7 separate regions of the Homo sapiens genome follow, and all the other regions are linked to region 3. Evidence: fine-mapped expression QTL. A gene starts in region 3. Each other region holds a variant in brackets. All regions are shown on one strand. Distances are from middle to middle.

Region 1 (4,151 bases), 24 kb after region 3:
TTTGTCTAACATCATTTCCATAGTCTAAAATAAAATAAACAGCAAGTAATAAGTCATTAGCAAAAAAAGTGAAAGAATGTGCATTAAAATGATGTATAACATAACCACATTTATTTAAGAATGTATTCCAATATCAAATGGCAAATTCCAACAGTGCAAAAACTTACCCCTGAAAACAGGCATAGTCACTTTCAAACTTGATTTTTCTTTCATTTTACTCTACCTTTTCATTTGATGAAACACCTTTGCATTTTATCTCCCTGAGCCAAAGTACCTGTAAGTTGCCCGGAGTTGGGGTTGGTGCAATACTGTGGAAGAGTGTGGACACGGAAGACCTAGTCAGTCCTTGCTGTGTGATATCAATGATTTGATTGAGAAAGACTCATTTTCCTGGGCCTCACCTGTCAATTTTCTCAACTGTCAAATGCCCTCTTTTGGCCTGTATTAGGGGCTGATCTCATGCAATACGGAGCCTACTCTGCAAATACAAGGGGTCATGGTCATTGTCCATTTGTGGGGAGTGTGAAAACACCTGGTGATCATGATGGGCTAGGTACTGTTTCACACTTTAAAATGCCTTTATTTTAGGGGGACCCTCTAGTGCCATAGGTATTTTGGAGTCTCTGCTTTCCAAATGGCCTATGGGAAATCCTGAGATGTCCGTGGGATCTAACTTTGCCCAGTGGGAATGTTGTGTCATAGTCATAAAGGCTTAAGGATTAGTTTATTTCCAGCCCTGCAGGGGCTATAAATTGCTACTTTAAATTTCATTCCAGCACCCTGATGTTTATGTTGCTATGGTGGTGTGTCTCTTGCTCGGGTGACAAGATTGCCATTGGAAATAGGCCAAAATAACAGCCTAACAGGTGGCTGTGCTTTGGGAAGTCATTTGCAAAACTATTTTGCGAAGAAGTCTGGTGCAAATAAGTCACATGACTGTGCCCTTAACTGTAGTTTATAGTTTAGCATTTTTTTAAAACGCATTCCTCCCCCTTTCCGTTTTATATATAGACTTTTTTCCTCTTTCAAGTAGTGCCGTGCTGATTTCCTGTAGTAACACAAGGAAAGATTTCAGCTCATTTTATTTAGCAGTGGATGTCCTTTCCTTATTTTTTGTAACCAGAGCCCTCTTTCTAAAAATAACCCTTCTTTTCCTAATGTGATTCTTCTTATAGCTGATGTACTCTATTTAAATGAAAGGCCTCTTTTTAACATGCCCATTTTAATCGATATATATTTATTACATATAACTATATATAATAAAATACATATATAAATATATAATAAAAGTAGATTTCCCTGTAGGGTCTAATCCTTCGTGAATGTGGTAGCAGAAATTGTTCGTTACGCTTTCACCTGCCAATTATGATTGTTTTCTTTCTTTCTGTTTTTTTTTGGAGATGGTGTCTCACTCTGTCATGTCACCCAGGCTGGGGTGCGGTGGTGCCAACTCGGCTCACTGCATCACTGCAACCTCCACCTCCCGGGTTCAGGCAATTCTCCTGCCTCAGCCTCCCGAGTAGCTGGGATTACAAGCATGCACCACCACACCCAGCTAATTTTTGTATTTTTAGTAGAGACGGGGTTTCACCATATTGGCCAGGCTGGTCTCAAACTCCTGACCTCAAGTGATCCGCCCGCCCTGGTCTCCCAAAATGCTGGGATTACAGGCGTGAGCCACCGCGCCTGGCCAGTTTTCTTTCTTTTGAGATAAAATCACGGAAAGAACCTGAGTATTAAACCAGTTAAACTTCCTACCCACTTAAGAGTCCTTTCTATGATAATCTTGGATGGCAATCATCTTGCCTTTGGGCTTAATACCAGCCATCGCTTGGGTGTGGGCTCTTTTTGGTAATACAACCTCTATGATTTTCCACTTTGATTTGTTGGAAGATGCTTTCTCATGTTTAGTTGGTATCTGACTCCTTAGAGCTTTCAGGATCGTTTCTACCACTATAGTGACAAACACAAGCCCTTTCCACATGCTGACTCTTTAAACATTTAAAGAAATCTATAATGTTGGCTGGGTGCGGTGGCTCATGCCTGTAATCCCAGCATTTTGGGAGGCCGAGGCAGGTGGATCATGAGGTCAGGAGTTCAAGACCAGCCTGGCCAAGATGGTGAAACCCCATCTCCACTAAAAATACAAAAATTAGCCGGGCCTGGTGGTGGGCGCCTGTAATCCCAGATACTCAGGAGGCTGAGGCAGAGAATTGTTTGAACCCAGGAGGCGGAGGTTGCAGTTAGCCGGGATTGCGCCACTGCACTCAAGCCTAGAAGACAGAGTGAGACTCTACCTCAAAGAAAAAAA[A/G]AAAAGAAAAGAAAAGAAATCTAGATTGTTCTCCTTTGATCTTCTCTTCCACTGGCTTGCTACTCTCAATTCCTTCAGATTGAATTTATGAAATGCTTTTGTCTCCCTCACCATTCCTGTGGTTCCTCTTTCTTATTGCCCTTTAGAAAATATTGAACGCAATGCGTTACAGCAGAGGTCAACTAACTTTTTCTGCAAACCGCCAGATAGCAATATTTTAGACTTGCAAGCCGTAAGGTCTCTGTTGCAACTACTCAACTCTGACCTCGTAACATGAAAGCAGGCATAGGGCAACATGTAAATGAATAGGCGTGGCTGTGTTCCAGTAACATTTTATTTGTGGACACTGAAATTTGAATTTCATAAAATTTTCACATGCCACGAAATATTATGTGCCTTTTGCTTTTTCTTTTCCAACCATTTAAAAATGCAAAACCCATTTGTAGTTGGAGAGGCGTACAAAAACAGGCTATGGGCTGCATTTGGCCCATGGGCCGTTATTTACTGATCTTAGATATTGGAGGACCAGTGCTGAAACCACTGGAACTTCAGCTTTAACACTAGCACTGTCATTTTCAGAAGCCGCATCAAACTGCTGGCTGCTTCTGACAAGGTGGTCAGTTACACTTGGTCTTCTCCACCCCCCATCCCCCGCCCCTCCGCCATTTCCTGACAAAGCTGTCTCTCTAACCTGTGGGTATGTGTTCTGCCGAAAACAAGCAGCCATACCACAGCAGCCGTAACCATAGGACTTTGAAACAAATGCAATGAATGGCATCCACTAGTTTCAAGTTTGACCACATGTTTTTATTGTTTGTTTGTTTGTTTTTTGAGTTGGAGTCTCGCTTTGTCGCCCAGGCTGGAGTGCAGTGGCGCAATCGCTGTTCACTGCAATCTTCCCCTCCCTGGATCAAGTGATTCTCCTGCCTCAGCCTCCCAAGTAGCTGGGATTACAGGTGCCCACCACCATGCCCGGCTAATTTTTGTGTTTTTAGTAGAGACAGAGTTTCACCATGTTGGCCAGACTAGTCCGGAACGCCTGACCTCAAGTGATCTGCCCACCTTGGCCTCCCAAAGTGCTGGGATTACAGGCGTGAGCCACCGCGCCTAGCCTGACCACGTTTTTGATTCTTGCTTCTGTTATATCTGTATTAACCGTTCTTCTTAGCTTCGTGGCAGATGTGATAAGCATGCCTTTGTGTCTTTCTCTAAGTCACTGACTTTTCAGTAACATCTAAATCATAAAACATAGGTCTGGCCAGGTGAAGTGCTTGTGCCTGTAATCCCAAGGGGCCAAGGCGGGAGGATTGCTTTAGTCCAGGAGTTGGAGACTAGCCTGGGCAACACAGTGGACCTCATCTCTACAAAAAAAAAAAAAAAAAAAAAAAGTCATGACTGCTTTCCTTTGTTGCAGAAACCAGTAGGTATTTGGGTGTAGAAATGAAACCCTCAATTATATTCATAAGGCTAAAAATGAACTATTCCCTACTTCCTCATTTGTTTTGATTTTTAAAATAAGGTTCTCGTTAGATATTTTGAGAAACAGTTTAAGATTATAATTTTGTATGCAGAGGAGAAAATTTAGAAAATGGTGAAGCCAACTTTTTTAGTGTATAAACATTTAATCATAATTATATATGTGTCCGTGTGGACATTTATTTACCAAGGCTTTGCTTTAAGGGGAAGGGAGAACACAGAGGGCCAACATTTATGGAACATTCTAGTGGGCCAGGCCCAATGTGTTAATCATCTCATTTCAATTTTGCAGTTATCCTCCAAGGTGGATCCTATTATCTTCATTTAACAGACGTGGAAATTGAGGCTTAGAGGATTTGACAAA
Region 2 (4,151 bases), 63 kb after region 3:
CAGCAACAAAAAGCAGTACTGCTGCTGACTTACGGCTACTATTCTGAGTTGAAAGTGCTGAAAAGAAAACTCCAGGCCATGCGCATTTAATTTGATTGTAATCCTGCCAGAGATCCACCTGCTTTGCTCCCATCCGTTTCCCTTGGCCTGTCCTGTAGAAAGGGACTGCAATTGAGCACTTTTTTAAATTAAAAAAATGACCTGCACTCTCCACAAAATACAGGTCCAAATGGCAGTAGCTTATTGGTCATCAGTTTCTCCTAGGAAACCTGGGCCACAAGTTTCTGGTTGGTTTCGGACACACAGTAGGTGCTGAATTAATTAAAGGTGTTTCTTTAATTCAGCCCAGAAGCATCTGATTTGCTTAGGAAATTGATTAGGCATATATTACCTGGATGATGTCAATTTCTATGTAACCATTTCTCTCCTGTGTAATTGATGAGCCTCCTAATGTTGATTTTATTTTATTTTACCAAGCACTGTATTTAGTTAATAAAAAATACAGAATAGGATTCAAAACAGCTGTGTTTGCTATTGGCATGGCCGTCACCCTCCTAATACCTGTGCATGTCATAATAGACTACATTTGCAGAAACAAAAGGTTAGGAATAAAAAGATGACTTTTGTCCCTCCAGCTGCCAGTGACAACCCACAGCCTCAGCTTATGGTATTTATTTAATCTTGTATCTGTGATAGGGCTCTGAGACACTTCTGTGAAGCAGATGTTTGAAGATCTGACAATTATGGAAGAAAATTTCTCATAGAAAAAGATATGTTCTCCAGCCTTGGGCGGGGGCCTGACATTACTCTTCCACATTTCACTCATTCATTTATTGAAAAATGAAAAATTATATATATTTATAATATACCAGGTGATATTTTGATATGTGAATACATTGTTGAATTATTATGTTAAGCTAATTAACATATCTCTCACCTTACATACTTATTTTTTGTTGATGAGATGGACATTTCTTTTTTAAGTATGCTTAAATGTGTTCACGGATTGTGTGAAATTTTTGGCATCCCGTTTCTTGATATACCACCTTTTGCCACATTTCTTGTTTATATAGTATGTATCTCAGCCGGTGATGAATCAAGGAAAAAGATAAAGAAAAACAAACAAACAAACAAAAAAGCAAACAAACAAGTTAAAACAAACCCAAAACCTTCTTTCCCAGTAGGCAGTAATTTGGGATGTAAAATGTATGAGGTAGGCAGGAGGAAGATGAAAAGTCTGTCTGAAATGAGAACTGTCTGTTGGCTTAATTCAGGTGATCACAGATTGTCTGTAGCCTTGAGCAAAGCCTAGAGAATAGTGAGGCTAGTAAAACACTAGCCCTTGGGCTCAAAATTTAAGATGGCACCAAAAAACTAAAAATCAGGGTAAATAATATTTTGATGCAATATTTTTAAAAAATAAAAATTAATGCACAATACTCTACAATGAACAAAATATCAAAATGCTAAAGACAGGCTCTAACCCCGCACTGGCAAACGCAACCTCACTTGTCTCCTTCTAATCCTGGCCTTGACCCCTAATAACAAAAAGTAAGATCATCTAGACCTCAAAAGGAAAAGTTGCTAGTCCCTCTAAGCCTTCGTTTGCTCTGGGTTTGAATCCAAACTCTGTTATGACCAACTTAGTGAAATCAGGCAAATTACTCAACCTCTGTAACTTCCTTTTGAAAAATGGAGATGTTTTCTCTTGCAAGACTTTTTATTTATTTATTTATTTATTTATTTATTTATTTATTTATTTATTTATTTGAGACAGGGTCTCACTCCATTGCCCAGGCTGGAGTGCAGTGGTGCCATCATGGCTCACTGCAGTCTCTACCTCTCCAAGCTTGGGTAATCCTCCCACCTTAGTCTCCCAAGTAGCTGGGACTACAGGCATGCACCGTCATGCCTGGCTGATTTTTTTTTTGAAAAAAAATTTTTTTTATAGGGATAGGGGTCTTGCCATGTTACCCAGGCTGGTCTCTTAACTCCTGGGCTCAAGAAATCTGCCCACCTCAGCCTCCCAAAGTGCTAGGATTACAGACGTGAGCCATCACGCCTAACCTCTTGCAGGACTTTTGGGGTGGTTTAAAAATTACGCCTGTGTAGCACTGGGAACATTATGACACCCAATAAATACCAAATAAACAACAGCTTTAAATATTATAATTCATAATGATTCACAGAGTATTAAGATCCCCAGGCGATGCAACCAGGTAGTACCTAAGTGTATCAGTCTTGGGTGCATCTGTCAGGGTTAA[C/T]CTGGCTTTGTTTTTAACTTTACAGGACATATCAGAGTATAGCTATTGTGCCTGTGCTTTGAACACTCAAACATCCGCTCAACTGCTAAGTAACTGATTTCCTGTTTAGTCACAGCTCCTTGTCTGGGACCAGCCACTGGCAGCAAATTGTCATCTTCTGTATCTCCCTCTCAAAGCAACTCAGCCTTCTGAAGACGTGTAGAAGTTAGGTCTCGCAGGCTTGTATTTATTAAGCCCCCCCCCGCCACCCATCAGTCCCCAGTTATTTTGAGTGTCTCAAACGCATTTCCCACACCTGATGATTCATCTGAGGACGACTCACCCTTGTTGTCACTGACACTGTCCACAGCCCAGAGCTCAGCCTCTGATTTGCTCGGCAGAGATGGGGCTATGTACATATCGTGTGAGACGGAAGCTAACATAAGCAGAGGAGAAATCACGGAAGCAAAGTGAAGTGGGAATCCAGTTAATACTTGGAACAGAAAACTGGAAAGCAGCTCATTCATTCTCTCCGATTGTAAAAGGCGGATGGAAACAACACTTTTGTCAGCCTTTCTTCTAATCCGATCACAGCTGTAAAGACCATAAAGCCAAGCCCCGACGTCAATTATTCTTCTCCCTGTTCCTAAGAATGTGAAATTAGATGGGGAAAAGTGACAGAAGAGTGTCACTAAAATAACTTATTACACTTTGAGGGTCTTAGTCGTCATTAATAGTTGTTACTTTTTGAATATTCATCAGTGCGCCCTGCTGTTCGGCAAGAGAGGCTGTATGAAGTAGGAACTGCACACGCCTGGCTTCAGTCATGTATGCCTTGGATTTAAGCTCTTCTTTTCCACTTAATTAGTTAACAGGAACTTACTGAGCTGGGTGCAAAATGATACAGAAGAATAGGAGAATGGGATTGTAACCCCTGAAGCGTTTGTGATTTAGTTGAGTAGAATAAACTCTGCTGAGCCCAAGCTGAGCCTCAGCCTCATGCACCTGCTGTATTTCCACATTCTTTCATTTCTGCCCCAGAAATGTTGCTTGAATCTGGTTTCTCCTCTTTAACCATCTAAACTTTTACTATTGCTTTAGGACTGCCTCTCCTCATTTATTGCTATGTTGATTGCACTGCCCTGCCAAACCATATTGGAGCTGGATCAGGGGAAAATAAGCATATATATATATATATATATATATATATATATATATATATATATGCATGAAAATATCCTCCCATATTGTGGACCAAGTGGAAAAGTTAATGAAGCTCTACAATGAAAAAAAAAGTTGACTATGAGTAAAGTCTCATGTTGTCCAATCTGTAATCCTATTATTGTCAACCCTCGTAAGCCCGCCCAGTGGATGAGGTGGTGGGAGATGACGAGGGTGGGATGGGCATTCTGCAGCCAGTGGGGAAGAAGGCAGGGCCCTAAAACAAACAAGAACAAGCATATCTTTATTTAGAATTTGGATGTATTTTCATCGTGAATTTCCTTTGCATTCATTTTGATTAAAAAAAAATGCATTATGGCTGGGCGTGGTGGCTCACGCCTGTAATCCCAGCATATTGGGAGGCTGAGGCAAGTGGATCACTTGAGCCCAGGAGTTTGAGACCAGCCTGGCCAACGTGGCAAAACCCTGTCTCTACCAAAAATACAAAAATATATATATATATTAGCTAGGCATGGTGGTGTGCACCTGTAGTCCCAGCTACTTTGGAGGATGAGGCAGGAGAATTGCTTGAACCAGGAGACGAAGGGTTGCAGTGAGCTGGGATTGCATCACTGCACTACAGCCTGGGCAACAGAGCAAGACTCTGTCCCAGAAAAACTAAAAAAAATGCATTAAAATAATATTTATCTGTATTGCTGAGGTTTGAGGCACCCTCTTAAATTTTAC
Region 3 (4,151 bases):
GGTGAAACTCCATCTCTACTAAAAATACAAAATTAGCCAGGCGTGGTGGCCGGTGCCTGTAATCCCAGCTACTCCAGAGGCTGAGGCAGAAGACTTGCTTGAACCCGGGAGGTGGAGGTTGCAGTGAGCCGAGATCATGCCATTGCACTCCAGCCTGGGCAACAAGAGCGAAACTCCATCACAAACCAATAACAGCAACAAGACGGATGATGGAGGAAGCATATATGTGACAATTTACAGTTCGGGAAATTCAGAGAAGTAGCTCCTCAACAGTGTCACCCGTCAGTAGAATACTTCCTTCCAGAATCAGTGTCAGGAAATGTCCAGGAAGCCAGGAACTGAGCCTACACATCCCGATGTCCCAAGTGCATGCGCATGTGTGGCTAGCCAATCCCTTGCCTTCCTGCCTCTGGGAAGATTATTAGGTCTTCCATTTGTTTTCAAGTAAGAAGCAAAAAAAAAAAAAAAAAAAGGAAAAACAGCTTGAGTTTCTTTCCATATCACAGCCTTCCAATGTGTTATTATTCAACACTGCAGTGTCAGATTTAGATTTTCCACCTCGAGGAATTTGGTTTAGCTTTAATTAGTTGCTGTGAATATTTCTGAGCCAACTCTGGAAAGCATTTATCTGGAAAATAGTTTCCACTAAAATATAAGCTGGATATAGGGTATCATTTTCCTAGGAGGGTTTGTATCAGTTAACAGTTATAAATTCTCTCCAGCCCTCTGGATGACTTTTGCCACAAGCCCATCATCGTCATATTGGTTAATTACTTATTAATTAAACACAATTCAAAATACTGTATTGAGGCATCTGCATCGCCATCTAAGCTCTAGCTTCAGGACTTCAGAGCGTGAAGATTTTTCGGAGAAAAGATAACGCTTACAGGTTATTCTCATACAGGCAACTGATGCATTTTTCATCCGGCAACTTTTCATAAAAACAAGCTGAAAAATACCAGACAAATGAAAAACAGACTTCAGCAGTTCCATGCTGCTTCCTGAGTAACTGAAGAATGTGCTTCTTGTGGTTAAAATGAGAGATCTGTTTAATATGGATCAAATAGCAACACTCCAGGCATTTTCATTGACATTTCACTGTGACTTTTTGAACTTAGGAGTGCGGATACGAAAACCTACTCTTTCTTTCTGCTGCGCGGAGCCTGCACAATCTGCAGAAAGATTGCAGAGCCGGGCCAGGCGAGGTAACAGGCTACGTGGGGTTCATGTTCTCTCTGGTTGTTCCCTCCCCGTTTGTACTTCATTTCCATTCACACGGCTGCACTTCCCAGTTTTCCAGGATCTCTCCTCTGAAACCAGGCAAGGGTTTGTTCCCAAATCCCACCCATTGCCTCTCCAGCCCCAGACTTGCTTACTGGACCACACATAGGTGGTGGGCATTGGTGACTTGTCCCTAGGGTCAGGGGACCAGAAACTTCCCAGAGGGGCTGGATGGAGCACGGCAGCACTCAGGGCACAATGGAGAGCGGATTCAAAGGGCAAAGGAGCCGAGGAAAGCCCCTCTGCCCGAGCCTCCCCAGCGCCGGCCGGGCTCCGCTCCGGAGCAGCCCCGCCGTCTGGCAGAGACATGCTGTTTTGTTTAAATCCTCCACATTCTTTGCCATTTCCCCATTGGCCGGATGGGGCTACCCTCCCCGCCGCGGCCGCTGCTGATGTCAGCCTCGCTCGCGCTCGCTCCTCCCGCACCCACCTCCCGGCCCCAGGCACACTGCATCGGCGCGGACGCTCCGGCCCCGGCGAGGTGGCTGCAAACTCGCGGGCACGCACGGCGCCCGGGGAGCCGAGGGACTCGGGGGAGGGGACGCGCGCGGAAGGCGCCAGCTTCCTCCCGCCCGCCCCTGGCAGCCGCGAGCCGAGGTTGGAGGCGCCCGGGGCCCCAGCCGGGCAGAGCCGAGCGGCGGCGGCGGCGGCGGCTTCCCTTTTCTCCCCGAGCCGAGCCCCGGAGCGGCGCGGGGACCGGCCCTAAAAAGAGCAGGAAATCTTGTTTACCGCCCGCGGAGAGAAGCCGATCGAGCCTTTGTCTGGAAAGTCAGCATCTCCGGCTCCGGCTGCAATGTGTTCCTGGTGACATTAGCATCGGGCAGACCCGCCGGAGGAGGGGGGTCGCCAGGTTCCCGTCTGCTTTCGGAGGCGGATCGAGCGGGTGACTTTTGTGCATTCGTTTTAATTTTTGGAAATCTCTCTTTTTTCCTCCCTCGCTCGCTGCCGGGCATGTCCTGATCTGGCGGCCGCTCCTACCACCCTGGGCAGCCGAGCAGAGTCGTCCCCAGCGGGTCTCCCTCCCTGCCTCCCTGACTTTGCAACACCGCGTTCCGGGAGGACCGGCCTCGGCGAGGGAGGAGGCGGGGGAGCTGCGAACACCCAGACCCAAACCCTGACATGCTCTGGGGCGGAGAGGAGGAAGCCAGGAGCTGAGCGCGCCGCGGGGGCTGCTTCGCCCTCCGGCTCCGAGCGCCGGGCTCCGGGCGCCCTGCCCTGCGCCTGGGCAGCAGCCTTGCTGGTCTTGGGGGCGCCCCCCGCTTCCCGCCCCGGGGGTCCGCGGCCGGCAGGACCATGCTGCTGAAAGAGTACCGGATCTGCATGCCGCTCACCGTAGACGAGGTAAGCGCCGCGCCCGGCCCGGCCTCGCCCGCTCCGGGACCCCCGCCGCTACCGCCGCCTCCTGGCCGGCGAGCCCCGGGCGAGCGGCAGGAAACCCAGGTGGACGTTACCCCGCAAACCCGAAGCCTGGAGGAGAGGAGGGAGGGGATTTGCGGCTTCCACTTGTCACCCCAGCGGGGGAGGGCGGCGCTGGGTGGGGCGGCGGACTCCGGGTGGGCTTTTCGGGGGCGCCCAGAATCCAGACTGTTGGGGATCACTATGAGCCAAAGGGAGTGGGTGCGCCCCCTCCCTCCAAATAAGAAAATGAATAAACCAAACCCAAGAGCCCCCGGCGCGCGCTGTAGCTGGGGTTTGGGGGGCATCCCGTCCTGGCCGTGGGCCCAGCCTCCCCTCCCCGCCCTCTGCGGTCAGGTAGGGGTGCGAGGAGGAGCCCTGCGCCCTCGGGATCTGCACGCCCCGAGCCCCGCGGGAGGAACCTCTGAGCCCTTAGGGGAGGTCCCTGCGGGGCCCGACTTCTCGCCGTCGCCGCGGGCTTGGGCGCAGCTCCCGGCACGTCCGCCCTTCGAGGCTCGGGACCCGGCTGTGTCCTTTCGCAAACCGCCTGGCTCGGAAACTTTCTGCGTCTCTTGTTTCTTCCGCCGCGGGGAGCGGCGCGCGAGCCGGGAGCGGCGGGGGCTGCGACGCGGCCACAGGAGGGCGCTCCAGCACGTGGTGCCGGGGCCGCGGCTGCCGGCTGGGGGCGCCGGGCGCGGGGCGGGGGCTCGTCCTCCAAGCGCGGCTCTGCTGTCCTTCTCCCGATCCTGCGAAGCCGCGAGCTCCAGTATTCAGGAAGTGGTGACTCAGATAGGATTATTCCGGCCCCGGCTTCCCTTTCTTCCCCTTCTTCCTCCCCACCTTTGTGGTGATTCCACGACTGCTGAGCGTCTCTGTCCAGGGACAGCGAGGGAGCCCAAAGCCAAGCAAGGCAACGTGAAACTCACTAGTGTGGTTTGGTGTGGCAACACACATGAAATCAGCCACCCAGACCGTCTTTATATTTAAATCTGGTGCCTCGAAACTATCAGATATGTTTTTGAGCCACTACTTGGTGAGAGGGGCGATGTGCTTTGGGAGAGAAAAAGATGCATAACTGAGAACATGGCTGAGCTCACAGGGGCTGTCCGTATTTGCCATCTGGACCAAGGGTTAAGGTAAGACCCAAGTACAATCCAAGACAAGATCAAAGTAGCTGCAAGTTTACAAAACGCATCACGGGGACACAGGCTGCCAAGGAGGGAGAGATCAGCTTCCACCAGAATGAACAACCGAGTTTTGGAGTTCGTTGGCATTTGAGGAGGTAGCATTTAAGCAGGGTCTGGAAGGGTGGATGCCAGGTGGGTAGACAGAGATTCGAGTTGCATATGACCTTGTAAGTGGAGAAGCAGGACATAGCTTTGTGGAGAAAGAGAAGGGCAAATGAATGGGACTGGTTAATAGGAGTCTTTCCAGAAAAGGTGGAGATTGTCCCACCTTGTGGGCAGTTGAGCTAG
Region 4 (4,151 bases), 260 kb after region 3:
CTCTGCCTGGACTTCAGGGAGTTCCCTCCTGATTCAGTAGGAAGTCTTGATACAAATATAGAATATTAATGAAGAAATCAAGTCTCATTTCTAGTCAACGTGCCTGACTCATTTCCCTGTGCTCTGTGCCCCCAAAGAACCTCCACTAGAAAGCTTCCTTTCATTCACACAGACATTCGAGGAGCTTTTCCTTCATGCTTCACAGGGTCACTCATGGGCACGTCCGTACCTCCTTCCCTGGGTCCTAGAGTATTCTTCCCTGGATGCAGCTTGGCCAAGGAGATGAGTGGTAAAGAGTCCAGTAATTATTCATCCAATAAATATTTATGGAGTCCTCACTGAGTGTCACATACAATGTTAAGATGGGGATGTCTGGGCATGGTGCCTCACGCCTGTAATCCCAGCACTTTGGGAGGCCAAGGCAGGCGGCTCACTTGAGTTCAGGAGTTCGAGACCAGCCTGATCAACATGGCAAAAACTCTACTAAAAATACAAAAATTAGCCGGCAGGGTGGTCAGCTACTCGGGAGGCTGACGCATGAGAATCGCTTGAACCTGGGAAGTGGAGGCTGCAATGAGCTGAGATCACAACAGAGTGAGAAACTGTCTCAAAAAAAAACAGCAATGAGCCAAAGAGATGCTTAGGGTCCCTCCCTTCAGGACACTTCCAATCTAACAAATACCACGCAGAGAGTATTTGGCGAACAGTAGAGAAATAGTCACACAGATACATATGGAGTTCAGAGTCACACGTGCAGGAAGGCAGGTACGGGGAGAGACTGTGATAAGGAAACTGAATTTAAGAGGATAGGATCAGGAGACATGCTATGGAAAAAATGACATTTCAGGCCGGGCGCAGTGCCTCACGCCTGTAATCCCAGCATTTTGGGAGGCCGAGGCAGGCAGATCACCTGAGGTCAGGAGTTTGAGACCAGCCTGGCCAACAGAATGAAACCCCAACTCTACTAAAAATATAAAAATTGCCCGGGCATGGTGGCATGCGCCTTTAGTCCCGGCTACTCAGAAGACTGAGGCAGGAGAATCACTTGAAGTCCCAGCGACTCAGGAGGCTGAGGTTGAACCCAGGAGGCGGTGGTTACAGTGAGCCGAGATGGCACCACTGCAATCCAGCCTGGGCAACAGAGACTCGGTCTCAAAAAAAATAATAATAAATAATAAATGAAGCTGAGGTGTCATAGGATCTAAATTATGCTTTTAAAATATTGTTCTGGATGGAGAATGGACTGGAGAAGAACAGAGTCAGGAGACCACCAAGGTCACTATTGTGATTTATATTGTCGGTTACTTAGGTTCTGTCGTGGCTTGCGCTAGAGGGCTGGTGGCAGAGATGGACAGGAGCAGATGGTTTGGAGGTATATTTTGAAGATGAGTTGACAGGGATTGCTCATGGATTGGATGTGGGGATGAGGTTGAAGGAGGAATTGGGATGGCCTTAAGGATTCTGGCTTGGGCAACTGATAGATGGGGGTGCTGCTTACTGAAATGGGAAGGTGAGAAGAGAGGTATACGTTGGAGAAAGATGAGTGGATTTTGTGATGTCAGTGAGGCATCTAACACAGACAGAAATGAGTCTGGAGCTTAGGTGAGAGATCTGGGAGACCAATTTGAGAGTATTTGGCGAATAGGAGATTTAAAAATCCTGGGGATGGATGAGAGGAAGAAAGCATGAAATATAAATGGGAAAGGGGTTCAAGTCTGAGCCTTCAAGGATGGCAGCATATGGAGATCAGGTTGAATCTAAAAGAATCAGGAGTCTAAAAGAATTGGCCAGAAAGTTAGGAGGAAAACACAGAAATGCACCAAGGAATGCAAGTTTCAAGAGGAGGAGAGTGACCAGAGGTGCTGAATGCTGCCAAGAGATCGAGTAGGAAGAGAATGGAAAACTGTCCGCTGGAGCAGTTCTCAACTGGGGGTGATTATTGCCTCACGAGGATGCTTGGCAATGCCTATAGACATTCTTGGTTGTCAAAACATAGGAGGTGCTACTGGTATCTAGAGTGTAGAGGCCAGGGATACTGCTAAAATCCTCTACAGCACAGA[A/C]AGCCCCTCACAACAAAGAATTATCTGGCTCCAGCTGGGCGCGGTGGCTCACGCCTATAATCCCAGCACTTTGGGAGGCCGAGGCAGGTGAATCACAAGGTCAGGAGTTCAAGACCAGCCTGGCCAACATGGTGAAACCTCGTTTCTTCTAAAAATTCAAAAAATTAGCCGGCCATGGTGGTAGGTGCCTGTAATTCCATCTACTCGTGAGGCTGAGGCAGGAGAATCACTTGAACCCAGGAGGCCGAGATTGCGCTACTGCACTCCAGCCCAGGCGACAGTGCGAGACTCCGTTTCAAAAAAAAAAAAAAAAAAAAAAGCATTATCTGGCTCCAAATGTCCATAGTGCCAAGGCTGGGAAGCCTTGTTCTACAGGAAGAGGTGATTGAAGATGGATGGAACTCTGGATTCAGCTTTGACGCTCAGGGCCACCCCTGGCCCGCCCTGGAGTCTTACGGTTACTAAATGGATGCGGGAGAAGGGGCCCCATAGGGCTGAGCCCTGCACATTCATCATCCATTGTGTGACCTCCCAGGGGATCTGCTGGCATCTGGAACAGGTGGAATTCCTCCTCCGTGGACCTGGCAGCCGGACCACAAAGGGCTATAGGTACCACTGGGAGCCTGCAATAAAATCTTAGAAAAAGCATTCCCCCAGGGGCGACTCCCTCGTAACCCCAGCCCCATCACCTTCAACAGGCCAGAATACAGACTGCAGTCTGAACCCACCCAAAGGAAGAGGGGTGAGTTTCCTGGGCTGTTTTGGTGGTTGTGTCTACTGTAAACACACCAGGGACTGGGAATAAGAGGAACAACCGATTCAGAAGGCAAACCATTTCCAAACAAATGTCTAACTGGCACACTGTAGATAATTAACACCCTCCACCCCACCACAGGAGTTTCCTTCTAAAATGAAATCTGACCTTGTTCTTTGCTTGAAACCCCTCACTGGCCCTCCTTTAGAGTTCAGCTCACACAGGACTCCCCCTTTCTGAGTTTTCCTGGGCATGCCCCCACCACTGCTGGTCTGGAGGCAGCAAAGTTCTGGTCCGTGGCTTCTAGATCATGCTAGGTTATGCTAGCTCATCACTATGGCATGAGCTCTGCGAAGACAAGAGCTGGCTCTTTCCCAGCCGCTGCCACAGCACCAGTGCTTAGCAGGCGCTCACTCAATGGTTGCTGAATGAATGAGTGAAGGCAAGGGACTTTGCTTTTTTTCTTCCAGCAGTGACAATTTCAGAGCAACCGCTATCAAAGAAAATGAATTCGTTGCCATTAAGCAAGCAGTTGTGAATCAGAGTTCCTTTTTTTTTTTAATCGGAGGCATCCAGCTCCATGGGCCTTTTCTTCCCATCCATCTTTGTAAGTTGACGATGTCAGCGTCCTAAATAGAAACGCTCTTTATGTGAGGAAGCCGGATGCTGATGGGCCGAATCTGTTCCTGGATTTTTTTGATGCTGATGAACCCAGACCAGGGTTATCTGGGTTGCTCCTCTCCACTCAGCTACTGTTGCACACACACACGGCCATCCAGGCCAAAGGAGGGGATGAAAGCACTTTCCTTTCTTTTTCCATTTCTCCCTGGAAACCTTTGAGCCACACAATCAAGACTGCCTCTCTCATGAAGGTGACCAGAGCTTGGAGTTTTCCACTGGGTGCCCTCTGCCCGATGGCCCTCGTGCCATCGCCACTAACCGGGGACTCAGAAGCATGCTTTGGGGATTCAGGACCAGCTGATAGCCCAGCTCTGTGCTTTCCTTATTCTCATTTTTGCTGTGTTGCTGTTTCCTGTTAGGGCCTGAACTTCAGCTCTCAAAAACCTCTTAGCTTCAAGTTTGTTCTCATAGTCATTAATGGACTCTGCAGGGCAGTGCCGTATTGTGGGGTGGGGGTGGGGGAGGAATTAGTGTGATTTTTTTCAGGCAGAGAGAGCCCCTCCATTAGTCACACAGACCACTGAGACCCTGCCCGCCCATAAGAGTCATAAAGCTGTTTGCACCATGTCACATGTAAAATGACCATCATCAACACCAAAGCAGGAAAAGGGGTGAAGCCAAAAGCTGAGCAGGTTGGACTGGTTATGTGGCTGATA
Region 5 (4,151 bases), 87 kb after region 3:
TTTTTTGAGATGGAGTTTCACTCTTGTTGCCCAGGCTGGAGTGCAATGGCGTGATATCGGCTCACCGCAACCTCCGCCTCCTGGGTTCAAGCGATTCTCCTGCCTCAGCCTCCCAAGTAGCTGGGATTACAGGCATGGGCCGCTACGCCCGGCTAATTTTGTATTTTTAGTAGAGGCGGGGTTTCTGCATGTTGGTTAGGTTGGTCTCGAACTCCCGACGTCAGTTGATCCACCCACTTCAGCCTCCCAAAGTGCTAGGATTACAGGCGTGAGCCGCCGCCCCCGGCAACAATTGGAAATTTTTTAAAAACAAAGACTATTTAGCTTGAGCTCAACTAAAGACTTTGGTTTGCATATTATAGACAAATACATAAATTGTGTTTATATAGACTGTGTACATATATAATTATATACTGATGAGATATAGCATTTGTATTTTTCAAACCACAAACATCCTGTAGTAATTCAGACTTATAAATACTTCTGCATAGCAAGTAACAATTTATAATAGCTAAACAGGAATGAATATGGATGGTGTTTCTTTGTGCCTCTGATTGGTGGGTAGGGGGGATTGAAAGCTTGATTTTGATCAGTTTTTTTTTAAACTTATGTGCATTATTGATTAATCACTTAATTGAATTGGTGGGATATATTTTCATACATGCAGTTGTGGCAATATTGATTGAGCTTTCTCTGAGCCCAAACTACCAATTCTTACAAGTGAAACAGGATGTCATCTCCGTGTTGTAATCATTTTATACTTCACATAGTACATTGGAAGTCTGAGGTAGCAAATTCGGCTTCCGGAAGTCCTTGACTTGGGGTCAAAGAGCATCGCTGATATCAGGAGAAGCTGCCTGAATGTGAATTCGGTAGTAAAAATGGAAAGATATTTTATGTGTTTGGCTAGGCGCAGTGCCTCACACCTGTAATCCCAGCACCTTGGGAGGCTGAGGTGGGCAGATAGCTTGAGCTCAGGAGTTTGAGACTGGCGCTGTGGGCAACATGGCAAAAACCTATCTCTACAAAAAAATACAAAAATTAGCTGGGCATGGTGGTGCACACCTGTGGTTCCGGCGGCTACTTGGGAGGCTGAGGTGGGAGGATCGTTTAAGCCCGAAAGGCAGAGCTTGCAGCACCACTGCACTCCAGTGTGAGTGACAGAGTGAGACCCCATTTCAAAAAAGAAAAAAAAAAGAGCCAGGTGTGGTGGCTCATGCCTGTAACCCCAGCACTTTGGGAGGCCAAGGTGGGCAGATCACTTGAGGTCAAGAGTTCGAGACCAGTCTGGCCAACACAGTGAAACCTCATCTGTACTAAAAATACAAAATTGGCCAGGTACAGTGGCTCGTGCCTGTAATCCCAGCTATTCTGGAGGCTGAGGCAGGAGAATCGCTTGAACCCGGGAGGCAGAGGTTGCAGTGAGCAGAGATCACGCCACTGCACTCCAGCCTGGGCGACAGAACGAGACTCCATCTCAATTAAAAAAAAAAAAATGATATTTTCTGTGTTCATCTAAGTAGAGAAATAAGTATAGACTGCCTTATGTTCATTTGCTTCCCAGTGTTCCTTGGTGGCTGGATTATTCATCTAAGTGAGATGTAAGATCTTTTGAGCATCTAACATAATAGTTATTCATAAAGACATTTAGGCTGATGGCTTTCTCAGAACGTCCTGCTGTTCATGATGGACTTCATCTATATTTCAATGAATTTCTAAATGGAGGAAACAGAACATTTTTCCTTTGATTAATTCATTGGTTTTCAGTCCTCAAGGACCCATAGGCTGGCGAACTCTAAGAGGAAGTCACAAAAGGAAGAATGGTAAATTGGAATTGGAACTGTGGAACTCACCCCGTAAAAATCTTTCAACACTGTCCTGAGTTCAACATCTGAAATACAGTGGACCAGGAGAAGATTGATGGAAGCTAATTTAAAAAGCTAATTTAAAATTGCACCAAAAAAAGCACAGCGTTATGAATTTAATAAAGTTCGTAGGGTGTTTTGGACCACGATTTTACAACTCTCTCACTTTTTTTTTTTTTGAGACAGAGTCTCACTCTGTCACCCAGGCTGGAGTGCAGTGGTGCAATCTCCTCTCACCGCAATGTCTGCCTCTCGGGTCCAAGCAATTCTCCTGTCTCAGCCTCCTGAGTAGCTGGGACTACAGGCATGCACCACCAGGCC[T/C]GATTGATTTTTGAATTTTATTAGAGATGGGGTTTCACTATGTTGGCCAGGCAGGTCTCAAACTCCTGACCTCAGGTGATCCACCCGCCTTGGTCTCCCAAAGTGCTGGGATTACAGGCGTGAGCCACCACACCCGGCCACAACTCTCACTTTTAATTGACTGTGCCCCAGAATCAAGCACTTTGGCTAGCAAATGATGGCTAGTTAGATCACAGAGGTGTGTGTTGCATTCTGTGTCTGTTCACTGTGAAATCGGGATTTTAAGAGTGTATGTTGTTGAACATACACCTGTCTTTGAGTGATCGGTCCCCAGAGGCCACCTCTAAGGTGAAGATTTGGGGAGGTAATTGTGGGAAGCCCCAGGAGGAGCAGAGGAAAATGAGAAAGGGGACGAAGGGAATGTAATAGAATGTGTGTTGGGAGAGGGTTTCCTTATGAGCCAGTGCAGAGGAAAGTCTTGAAATGCACTAAGGAAATACAGTCTGTGCCGTGATGGTAGCACCGATGTGGAATCCCATAAGCAGCTGCTTGAAAAAGACTTGGTGGCAGACATAACTCTTTTTGCCTTTTAAGTGCTCCGGGAGATTTCACATGCCAATGTTGAATTGTCCCCAACTTGGGTTCAGGGTGCCCAGGAACTAGCAAAATCAGCTTTTTTGTGGTAGGATCTTCATAGGATCCAGGAGCTGTCACCCACGAATGACAGAGCCCCTGCACTGGATAGCCTTTCTCCAATCTGTATAAGGTGGAATAGGGAAATGAGGCTCCTCTCTGATGTTCGGGGCTTTAGCTGGGCTGGGTTCTGAGTCCTCTGTGCCTAGTTCCCCTTGGGAAGCACTGGAGACCTTGAACTGGAAATTCTCTTCCTGGGATCAACCAAATACTCCCAAAACTTCGTGGAAGCTTAGCTCCTTGTGCCTTTTGTCAGGTTTCCCTAGAAGTCAAGGGATTCTCATGGAGATGATGTATGGGATGGGGGCTAGAGGGCTGGGAGGATGGTAGGGCGGGGGTAAATCTAAACTTCAGGTGTCTTGGGAGTCCATGACTTGCATCACAGAGCTGGTTTCCCCCCCGTCAGGCAAGGTCGGCCTTTATTTATTTATTTATTTATTTATTTTAGAGACAGAGTCTCCCTCTGTCACCCAGGCTAGAGTGCAGTGGTGCCATCATAGTTCACTGCAGCCTTGAACTTCTGGGCTCCAGCGATCCCCCTACCTTAGCCTCCTGAGTAGCTGGGACTACAGGCACACGCCCAAATGCATAACTAATTTTTAAAGTTTCTGTAGAGATGGTGGGGTGGGGGGGTGGGGGGGGGCGCGTCTCACGATGTTGTCCAGTCTGGTCTCAAACTCCTGGCCTCAATTGATCCTACTGTCTTGACCTCCCAAAGCACTGGAATTTACAGGTGTGAGCCACTGGGCTGGCCAAAGTCAGCCTTTTGTACCCCTCTCAATGTCAGCCATTGATTGGTTGTGGGCCTCCCACAGGTGGAGAGGTTCCCATTTGTTCAAACGCAATTTACAAACAAGGGGGCAGATGGGACCCATTAGTAGCTGAAACTCACAGCAACCAGTGCCTAGTAAAGGATTCATGCAGGGCCCTCCCACACGACCCAAAACAGCAAAGAGAAAGGGCCAGGTGTTGGCCTTTTTCTAACTCATCCCTTTTAACACAGTAAGTTCAGCAGTCCTCTAAGAGTCCCACTTCAAAGTACCCCTCTTGCCTTCCGAATTCAGTGTTGTTAGCCCTTTTGCTTGAAAAACCCCCACTCTTGGACACAGAGGAAATAGGAGTCAGATGTCTGCACCTTCTGCACCTGTGGTTTGAACAGGACCCTCTGGGAGTCGCAGGAGGAGTGCTTGGCCCTGGTGCTTGGCAGGAGGTTGGGCTGGGAGATGATGATTGCCTTGATCCTCTCTTTCAACTACTTCATTCCAACTGTTGGAATACCTCAGTAGTGAGTAT
Region 6 (4,151 bases), 340 kb after region 3:
AAGCAGGGAGACCAGGAAGCAATTATTGCGGTCCAAGAAAGAGATGGGACTGGGAATGGGGGCGGGGCCAGTGGAGAAGGAGAGAGGTAGACAGGTTGAGCTATATTTAGAAGATAAAATCCACAGTACTTGGCAACCTACTCCAGTCCCACTGCTTTATATTCCTATCATGTGCCAATGATACCTCAATCTATATCACCCGCCTGGGCTCTGCCAGGAACTCCAGCATCATATGGGATACAGCTTATTTGGCATCTCACTTAACACAGCCAAAATAGAAATTTGGGTATGGCTTCTCCAAACAACCCTTGCAAATGTGCTACTCCCCTGCCTAGACTTCCCCATTTCAGTAGGGAACACCCCAATCCACCTGGTCACTCAAGGTAAATGTGCAGAACATGCCTTTGATTCCTCCCTCCCTCTCACCATCACACTCAACCCATCTGCCACCCTGTCAACTCTCCCTCCAAATCACATCCTGAATTGATCCACTTTTCCCTATCTCCGCTATCACCACCTACCACAAGCCACTATCTCTTGTATCCTCAAAATTGGTATTTCTGCTTCTGCTTTTTATCCCCTATGAGCTATTCTCTGCTTGAGAGCCAGCGTGATCCTTTCAAAACAGAAATCAGACCTTAGCTTAAAACTTTTTTTTTTTTTTTTTTTTTTTTTTTTTAGGCCAGGCGCAGTGGCTCACGCCTGTAATCCCATTACTTTGGGAGGCTGAGGCAGGGAGATCACGAGGTCAGGAGATCAAGACCATCCTGGCCAACATGGTCTTGATCTCCTGACCTCGTGCTCATGGTCTACTAAAAATGCAAAAATTAGCTGGGTGTGGTGGCAGATGCCTGTAATCCCAGCTCCTTGGGAGGCTGAGGCAGGAGACTCGCTTGAACCTGGGAGGCGGAGGTTGCAGTGAGCCGAGATCGCGCCACTGCGCTCCAGCCTGGGTGACGGAGCAAGGCTCCATCTCAAAAAAACCAAACAAACAAACATAAAATAACAATTGTTAGTGAGGATATGGAGAAACTGGAACCCTTGTGTACTTCTGACGGAAATGTAAAATTGTGCAGCTGCTGTGCAAAACAGCATGGTGTTTCCTCAAAAAATTAAAAACAGAATCACTGTGTGATCCAGCTATTCTACTTCTGGTTATATAGCAAAAAAAAACAAAGCACGATCTCAAGGGGATATTTGTATACCCATGTTCATAGCAGCGTTATTCACAATAGCCAAGAGGAAGCAATCCAACTGTCCATGAATGGAAGAATGGAGGAGCAAAATGTGGTATATCCATTCAACGGAATATTAGTCAGTCTTTAAAAGGAAGGAAATTCTGACACATGCTACAACAGGATGAACCTTGAAGATGTTGTGCTAAGTGAAATAAGCCAGACATAAAAGGACAAATATTTAATGATTCCATTTATCTGAGCTATGGTATTTAAATTCAGAGAGACAGAAAGTAGAATAGTGATTACCAGGGGCTGCAGAAGGGGGAATGGAGAGTTATTGTTTAATGGGTTCAGTCTGGGAAGATGAAAATGTTCCAGAGATGAATGGTGTGGTTGCAACACAGTGTGAATGTACTTCATGCCATAGAACTGCACACTTAAAAATGGTTAAAAGGCCGGGTCTGGTGACTCACGCCTGTAATCCCAGCACTTGGAGAGACCCAGGTGGGTGGATCACTTGAGGTCAGGGGTTCGAGACCATCCTGGCCAATATGGCAAAACCCTGTCTCTAGTAAAAATACAAAAATTAGCTGGACGTGGTGGCGGGCACCTGTAATCCCAGCTACTCGGGAGGCTGAGGCACAAGAATTGCTTGAACCTGGGAGGAGGAGGTTGCAGTGAGCCGAGATAGTGCCATTGCACTGCAGCCTGGGTGGCAGAGTGAGACTCAGTCTCAAAAAAAAAAAGAAGGTTAAGAGCCTGGTGCCGTGGCTCACGCTTGTAATCCCAGCTACTGGGAAGGCCAAGGCAGGAGGATCACTTGAGCCCAGGAGTTCAAGACCAGCCTGGACAACGTGGCAAGACCCTGTCTCTT[TAA/T]AAAAAAAAAAAACAAAAAAACAAACAAACAAAAAAAACAGGCCAGGTGCGGCGGCTCATGCCTGTAATCCCAGGTGTGGAAGTCTTTGGGAGGCCGAGGCGGGCGGATCACGAGGTCAGGAGATCGAGACTATCCTGGCCAACATGGTGAAACCCGTGTCTTTACTAAAAATACAAAAAACAAAACAAAACAAAAGTTGCTAAAAAGGTTAAAATGGCAATTTTATGTTACGTACATTTTAGCACAATAAAAAAATTTAAAATATACTCATTGGGTTTTGGCACCACCGGGAGGGCGCTAACATTAGGTTGAAATGTATGCCCCAAAGGATGACAAAGATCTTAGATTCTTCCTCTCTCTCTCTGATTTTTGCTGGGCAGAAAACTTCTTCAGGGGCATATGCCTAAATTCTGGTAATATTGTTCAATTATTTGCTATGGTCTGAACATTTACCGCAAAGGTTTTTTGAGTTTCTGAAACCGAAAAACATATCTTAGAGTATCTCAGATCTTATTTAAGAATCACCACAACTTTCAAATAATATAGAGATTTGGTGGCATACAAATATCTACCATTCACTTTCTTTGCTGAATGGTCCTTCTACGAATATTCCTTTGATGAAGCACTTACTGTACCCCATTCATGCAATGTACACGTCACCAGCTGTCAACCTTCCATGACAAATTTCTAATGGGTAACATCCTCCCTTTTGAATGTGAGCAGGCTTCCCTTCCTACCCATTATATATTTAGACTCATTCATTGTATATTTATCATCTGATTCTATTCTAGGAATTGAATGTGAGAGGCAATATCTTCCCCCAGTCTTCACAGCTAGGCAGCCAAGCAGCATAAACATGACAAACAATCCAGAGAGAACATCCACAACACACAGTAAAATGCACAGGGTCACAGCTGCCTTTGAAGACCAGCCTTAAATGTCTCTAACCAGTGAGGGATAGCCAGACCCTCTTCTTGCTCATTGACCTTGATGGATGCACATTGGAAGTGGAACGCCTCCTGACCCGTTCCTAGCTTAGGCTTGGTTGCAGAAGACTCCTAGTTCCCTTATTATAGCTGGTGTCCTTTCCAGAAAGGATTGTAATCTCCTTTAATAGTTTACCAAACTTAGACTCAAATTTACAGACGAATATGCAAGCACAGTTCCAGCTTTCTCAACCAGGAAGTCTTACTTTCCCTTAATGGATCAAGTCCACGTTCTATTTATTATCCTAGCTTGCAACGTTAAGTGTGACTTATTCAACAAACGTGTATTAAGCTCTTTGTATGGATCACAGACAATTGCTGGTGCCATGAATACGAAAATGTGAAGTGGCCGGGCGCGGTGGCTCAGGCCTGTAATCCCAGCACTTTGGGAGGCTGAGGCGGGTGGATCACCTGAGGTCAGGAGTTCGAGACCAACCTGGCCAACATGGTGAAACCCCGTCTCTACTAAAAATACAAAAATTAGCCAGGTGTGGGGTGGGTGCCTCTAATCCCAGCTACTCGGGAGGCTGAGACAGGAGAATCGCTTGAACCCGGGGGGCAGAGGTTGCAGGTTGCAGAGAGCCGAGATTGTGCCATTGCACTCCAGCCTTCGTGACAAGAGTGAACCTCTGTCTCAAAAAAGAAAAAAAAAGGCTGGGCGCAGTGGCTCACGCCTGTAATCCCAGCACTTTGGGAGGCCGAGGCGGGCGAATCACGAGGTCAGGGGATCGAGACCATCCTGGCTAACAAGGTGAAACCCTGTCTCTACTAAAAATACAAACAAGTCAGCCGGGCATGGTGGCGGGCGCCTGTAGTCCCAGCTCAGGAGGCTGAGGCAGGGGAATGGCGTGAACCCGGGGCGCAGAGCTTGCAGTGAGCCGAGATTGCGCCACTGCACTCCAGCCTGGGCTACAGTGCAAGACTCCGCCTCAAAAAAGAAAAAAGAAAGAAAGAAAGAAAAGCCTTGCTACTGATGGTGCCCTCATCACCTCTCACCTGGTAACTACAATAACTGCGATAGACTTCTAGGGAATCTCCCTGTTGGTGCCCCAGGCGCACTTGCTACTGAGAATGCTCTTAGTTAACTGCATGATCGCTCCCTCCCCTAGT
Region 7 (4,151 bases), 170 kb after region 3:
TCAGGCGTTTGAGACCAGCCTGGCCAACAAGGTGAAACCCTAGCTCTACTAAAAATACAAAAATTAACCAGGTGTGGTGGCATGCCTGTAGTCCCAGCTACTCTGGAGGCTGAGGCATGAGAATTGCTTGAACCCAGGAGGTGGAGGTTGCAGCGAGCTGAGATTGCATCACTGCATTCCAGCCTGGGTGACAGAGCAAGACTCTGTCTCAAAATAAATAACATAAAATATGGGTCTCTCTATCCATTTATTCATTTATTTTTATTTTTTTACCAAAATATATAAGCTGCTGCCCATGCTATGTTTGAAAGATGGCTCCTTATCTAGTAATAGCTGGTCAAGTTACTTGACTATGTGAATATTAGACTGTATACATAGTCTATACATATATATATACACACACATACACAGACGGAGAGACAGAAACACCTGCTGGGCATCACACACCGTTCTAGGTGCTGGGGTTGCAATAGTGAACAGAGCAAACATCCCTGCCCTGGTGGGACTTGCATTCCACTCGGGAGTGACAGTGCACAATAGCCATAATAAAGAACAGTATATTGGCCAGGTGCGGTGGCTCACCCCTATAATCCCAGCACTTTGGGAGCCCGAGGTGGGTGGATCAAGACCATCCTGGCTAACATGATGAAACGCCATCTCTAGGAAAAATACAAAAAATTAACCGGGAGTGGTGTCCCGCGCCTGTAGTCCCAGCTACTCGGGAGGCTGAGGCAGGAGAATCACTTGAACCTGGGAGGTGGAGGTCATGCCACTGCACTCCAGCCTGGGTGACAAAGTGAGACTCCATCTCAAAAACAAAAACAAAAACAAAAACAAAAACAAAACAGTATATCGTCTAGAATATATACTTTTATATAGTCTGTATACTTATGTATATTACATATTATTTATATAGGGAGACTATATATGTATATATATATATATATATATTTAGAAGGTGATAAGTGTTATGGAAAATAATAGAGCACATGGGGTGCTTCCTTCCAACCTTTCAGTCCATGCTATCCTATTCTGTCCCCATCTGAGTACTTAAGGACTTGTGAGGGACTCTCATGCTACCGGGCCCCTCTTCCCTGTGCTCCTGTAGGAACTCATAGAAACAGAATGTTTAGGCCTGGTTGGGATCTCAGAGGTTTTCCAGGAGGCTTTCCACCTGGGTTCTGCCTCACTGCTGATGGATGATGGTGTGTCCTGTGTCGCCTTGCCAGGGGCTTCTCAGCACACTGTCCACATAACCCTGATGCTGTCCAAGCTGAGCCTTCCAGGAACCTGCAGGAGGCAGGCTCCTTTTCCCAGAATCCTGACACAAACTGTCTTGTTAAGCAGGGAGGTCGGGGGTGGGGCCCGTGAGTCCAAGTTCAAGGAACTTGGTTTCTGGCCAGTCCCTGCCGGGGAGGCCCCGGCAGCCTTGCCTCCCACAGCTGATAACTCTGGTCCCGAAACTGCTCACTTCCCTACTGCCATATAAACAATTACATTAAGAGCACAAGTAAAAGACCAGCCAGAACAATCACTTAGAAGAGTAACTAAATGAATCAGAGCAGCTGGAGAAGATATTTTAAGACCCCAGAAATCACTGCACATAGAACTGGATGGGGGCAATTGATTATGAATCAAACAGATGTCAATTGCCAGTTTTAGTACAAGAAGGAAACAAAAGGTCAGTATATTCCTCCTGGACTATCTTGTGAGAAATGAGGATATGAAGGTAGCAGAGTTCTATTTAAAATGAGCTGCAGTCATTTCAGCATAATCTCAGTGCAGAACATGGCAGGTTTTAGGTACGCTGTTGAGAAGAAAATTCCAGGACTGTCTTTTCTGCTGGGAATGTTCAAGTTCTGGTAAAGGCCAGGTGCACTGGCTCATGCCTGTAATCCCAGCATTTCAGGAGGCCGAGATGGGAGGATTGCTTGAGCCCAGGAGTTTGATTCCAGTCTGGGCAACATAGTGAGACCCCATCTCTACCAGAAAATTTAAAAATTAGCTGGGTGTGGTGGTGCATGCCTTTAGTCGCAACTACCAGGGAGGCCAAGGCAGGAGGATCACTTAAGCCCAGGAAGTCAAGGCTGCAGTGAGATACGATCATGCCACTGTACTCCAGCCTGGGCAACAGAGCGAGACCCTGTCTCAAAAGAGAAAAAGAACAAAATAAAATTTCTAGTTAAGACCACCGTAATTCTGACCCCTGTTGAGAAAATGAAATTAGACTCTATTTAGACACGTTTGGCCTAATGATGTTCAAAACCTCCTGGAGCCAAAGCCCAAGTGAGCATACATTGCAATGTGAGATCAGGTACCAGGGGGAGTTTTGAATTTTGTGATCATAGGGATCGTAAAGTACCAGAAGCTTCTAATGGAGGGATGATTTAGGTTCTGCTCCAGAAGCTCTTTATGAAGTAGGTAAACACCCATAACCTGAGACCAGTTCAGATTATGCCTGCCCCTGAACCTTCTTATTAAATCAGTTGTGATTTCGGGAACCTTGGGGAATTTATGACATGAGAGATGATCTGCCAGGGTTCAAAACCTTGTTGCTGCTGATGCTTTGGG[C/G]TGGATCTTTATTTGCTGTGGTGGTGGGGGGCGGCTATCCTGTGCATCATAGGAGGCTGAGCCGCACCCTGGGCCTCTCTCTGCTCAGTAGATGCCAGTAGCACTGCCCACCCCACCTCGCCTCTGTTGAGACAACCGAAAATGTCCAGACATTGCCAGGTGTCTCCTGCAGGAGGCAAAATCTCCCTCTAGTGAGAACTCCTGTTCTAGGGTGACCAACCATCCCAGTTTGCCTGGAACTGAGGGATTTTCTGGCAGGTGGGACTTTCAGTGTTAAAACCAGGGAAGTCCCAGGCAAACCAGATGAGTTGTCCACTTGGCTGTGTCATTGATATGTTCTATTTTATACCAACGTTTAAAAGTAAGAACCCGGGCTGGCCATGGTAGCTCATGCCTGTAATCCCAACACTTTGGGAGGCCAAGGCGGGTGGATCACTTGAGGTCAAGAGTTCGAGACCAGCCTGGCCAACATGGTGAAACTTTGTCTCTACTAAAAATACAAAAATAAGCCTGGCGTGGTGGCATGCACCTGTAATCCCAGCTACATGGTAGGCTGAGGCTGGAGAATCGCTTGGACCTGGGAGATGGAGGTTGCAGTGAGCCGAGATTGTGCCACTGCCCTCCAGCCTGGGCGACAGAGCAAGCCTCTGTCTCAAATAAATAAATAAAGTGAGTAAGAAACCAAAGCTTTTGAAAAGTCTGTCTTTGGGAGGCATTGACAAGGCATCTGGGGGAATATGATGCTGCTTGTGGTATCATTTTGCCCCTCTTTTTCCTCAATGTCTCTAAAGCCTGAGCCCTGGTGAGATGGGCCATTGGAGGTTTGATCCTAGCCCATAGACCAAGGAGACTCGATTCAAACTTGCTGCCTTTCTAATAGAGAGGCTCTTGTTTGACACTTAGAGTGAGCATGAGTGACAGACTTTTTCTTGGAATTGTAGGCTGTGTGACAGTATACATCATGAAAGTGACAGCAACAGTGGGGACTAATTTAATTCCATTTTCCTTTGCAGGCCCTGATAAATCATTGCTGCAGGGAAAAATAAATTTTACTTTCTCAGACAAATGATTGGAATAATGATGTGCTGTGAGGAAATCGGGGGCTGAGAGAAGATCTGTTGGTGGGCTTAAAAGTATTTAAATAGCGCATCATGGAACTTGTTGCAAATACCTCTCGCGTCTGGCCTGGAAAATACCAGAAGGAACCTCCTTTCCAGACTGATTAGAAGAGTTCAGGCCGGGCGCGGTGGTTCATGCCAGTAATCCCAGCACTTTAGGAGGCCGAGGCGGGCGGATCACCTGAGGTCAGGAGTTCAAGACCAGCCTGGTCAACATGGCGAAACCCTGTCTCTATAGCTTGAACCCAGGAGACGGAGGTTGCAGTGAGCCAAGATTGCGCCACTGCACTCTCGTGTGGGGATAGAGCGAGACGTCTCCCAAAAAAGGAAGAAGAGTTCCATAAAATATCAGCTATCTTGACTAAATGATCGTGGTTTTTTAGGCCATCTCAATGGAAAAGGTCATTGATTATCGTGCTGCATATCCTATATAAGTTGGTGGCTGAAACAGCTAAAATAGAT

The links.
Region 1: its variant is fine-mapped to the expression of PITPNC1 in whole blood (TOPMed, PIP above 0.99).
Region 2: its variant is fine-mapped to the expression of PITPNC1 in whole blood (TOPMed, PIP above 0.99).
Region 4: its variant is fine-mapped to the expression of PITPNC1 in esophagus muscle (GTEx, PIP above 0.99).
Region 5: its variant is fine-mapped to the expression of PITPNC1 in whole blood (INTERVAL, PIP 0.99).
Region 6: its variant is fine-mapped to the expression of PITPNC1 in whole blood (INTERVAL, PIP 0.97).
Region 7: its variant is fine-mapped to the expression of PITPNC1 in whole blood (INTERVAL, PIP above 0.99).

What each region holds. Positions count from the first base shown.
Region 1 is chr17:67,399,543-67,403,693 of GRCh38, forward strand. All of the region lies in intron 1 of PITPNC1 (phosphatidylinositol transfer protein cytoplasmic 1), which reads left to right. Among named protein-coding and RNA genes, the nearest start is that of PITPNC1, 24 kb to the left of the region's middle. RefSeq lists a silencer at 2,611-2,905. The variant A/G (reference allele first, on the strand shown) is at 2,312.
Region 2 is chr17:67,438,780-67,442,930 of GRCh38, forward strand. The region is part of intron 1 of PITPNC1 (phosphatidylinositol transfer protein cytoplasmic 1); the gene reads left to right. LOC124904046 (a long non-coding RNA gene) reads right to left here. Exons shown (of 3, transcript XR_007065881.1): 3 at 1-2,889. Among named protein-coding and RNA genes, the nearest start is that of MIR548AA2, 31 kb to the right of the region's middle. The variant C/T (reference allele first, on the strand shown) is at 2,265.
Region 3 is chr17:67,375,581-67,379,731 of GRCh38, forward strand. It overlaps PITPNC1 (phosphatidylinositol transfer protein cytoplasmic 1), which reads left to right and starts at 1,701. Exons shown (of 9, transcript NM_012417.4): 1 at 1,701-2,622. The coding sequence starts at 2,575. RefSeq lists an enhancer at 1,507-2,200 and silencers at 1,586-1,705, 1,756-2,005, 2,356-2,775, 2,786-3,085, 3,196-3,555.
Region 4 is chr17:67,633,925-67,638,075 of GRCh38, forward strand. The region is part of intron 6 of PITPNC1 (phosphatidylinositol transfer protein cytoplasmic 1); the gene reads left to right. Among named protein-coding and RNA genes, the nearest start is that of NOL11, 82 kb to the right of the region's middle. The variant A/C (reference allele first, on the strand shown) is at 2,061.
Region 5 is chr17:67,462,714-67,466,864 of GRCh38, forward strand. The region is part of intron 1 of PITPNC1 (phosphatidylinositol transfer protein cytoplasmic 1); the gene reads left to right. Among named protein-coding and RNA genes, the nearest start is that of MIR548AA2, 6.7 kb to the right of the region's middle. The variant T/C (reference allele first, on the strand shown) is at 2,187.
Region 6 is chr17:67,712,067-67,716,217 of GRCh38, forward strand. All of the region lies in intron 1 of LOC101928045 (a long non-coding RNA gene), which reads right to left. Among named protein-coding and RNA genes, the nearest start is that of NOL11, 3.8 kb to the right of the region's middle. The variant TAA/T (reference allele first, on the strand shown) is at 2,053.
Region 7 is chr17:67,545,366-67,549,516 of GRCh38, forward strand. The region is part of intron 2 of PITPNC1 (phosphatidylinositol transfer protein cytoplasmic 1); the gene reads left to right. Among named protein-coding and RNA genes, the nearest start is that of MIR548D2, 76 kb to the left of the region's middle. The variant C/G (reference allele first, on the strand shown) is at 2,572.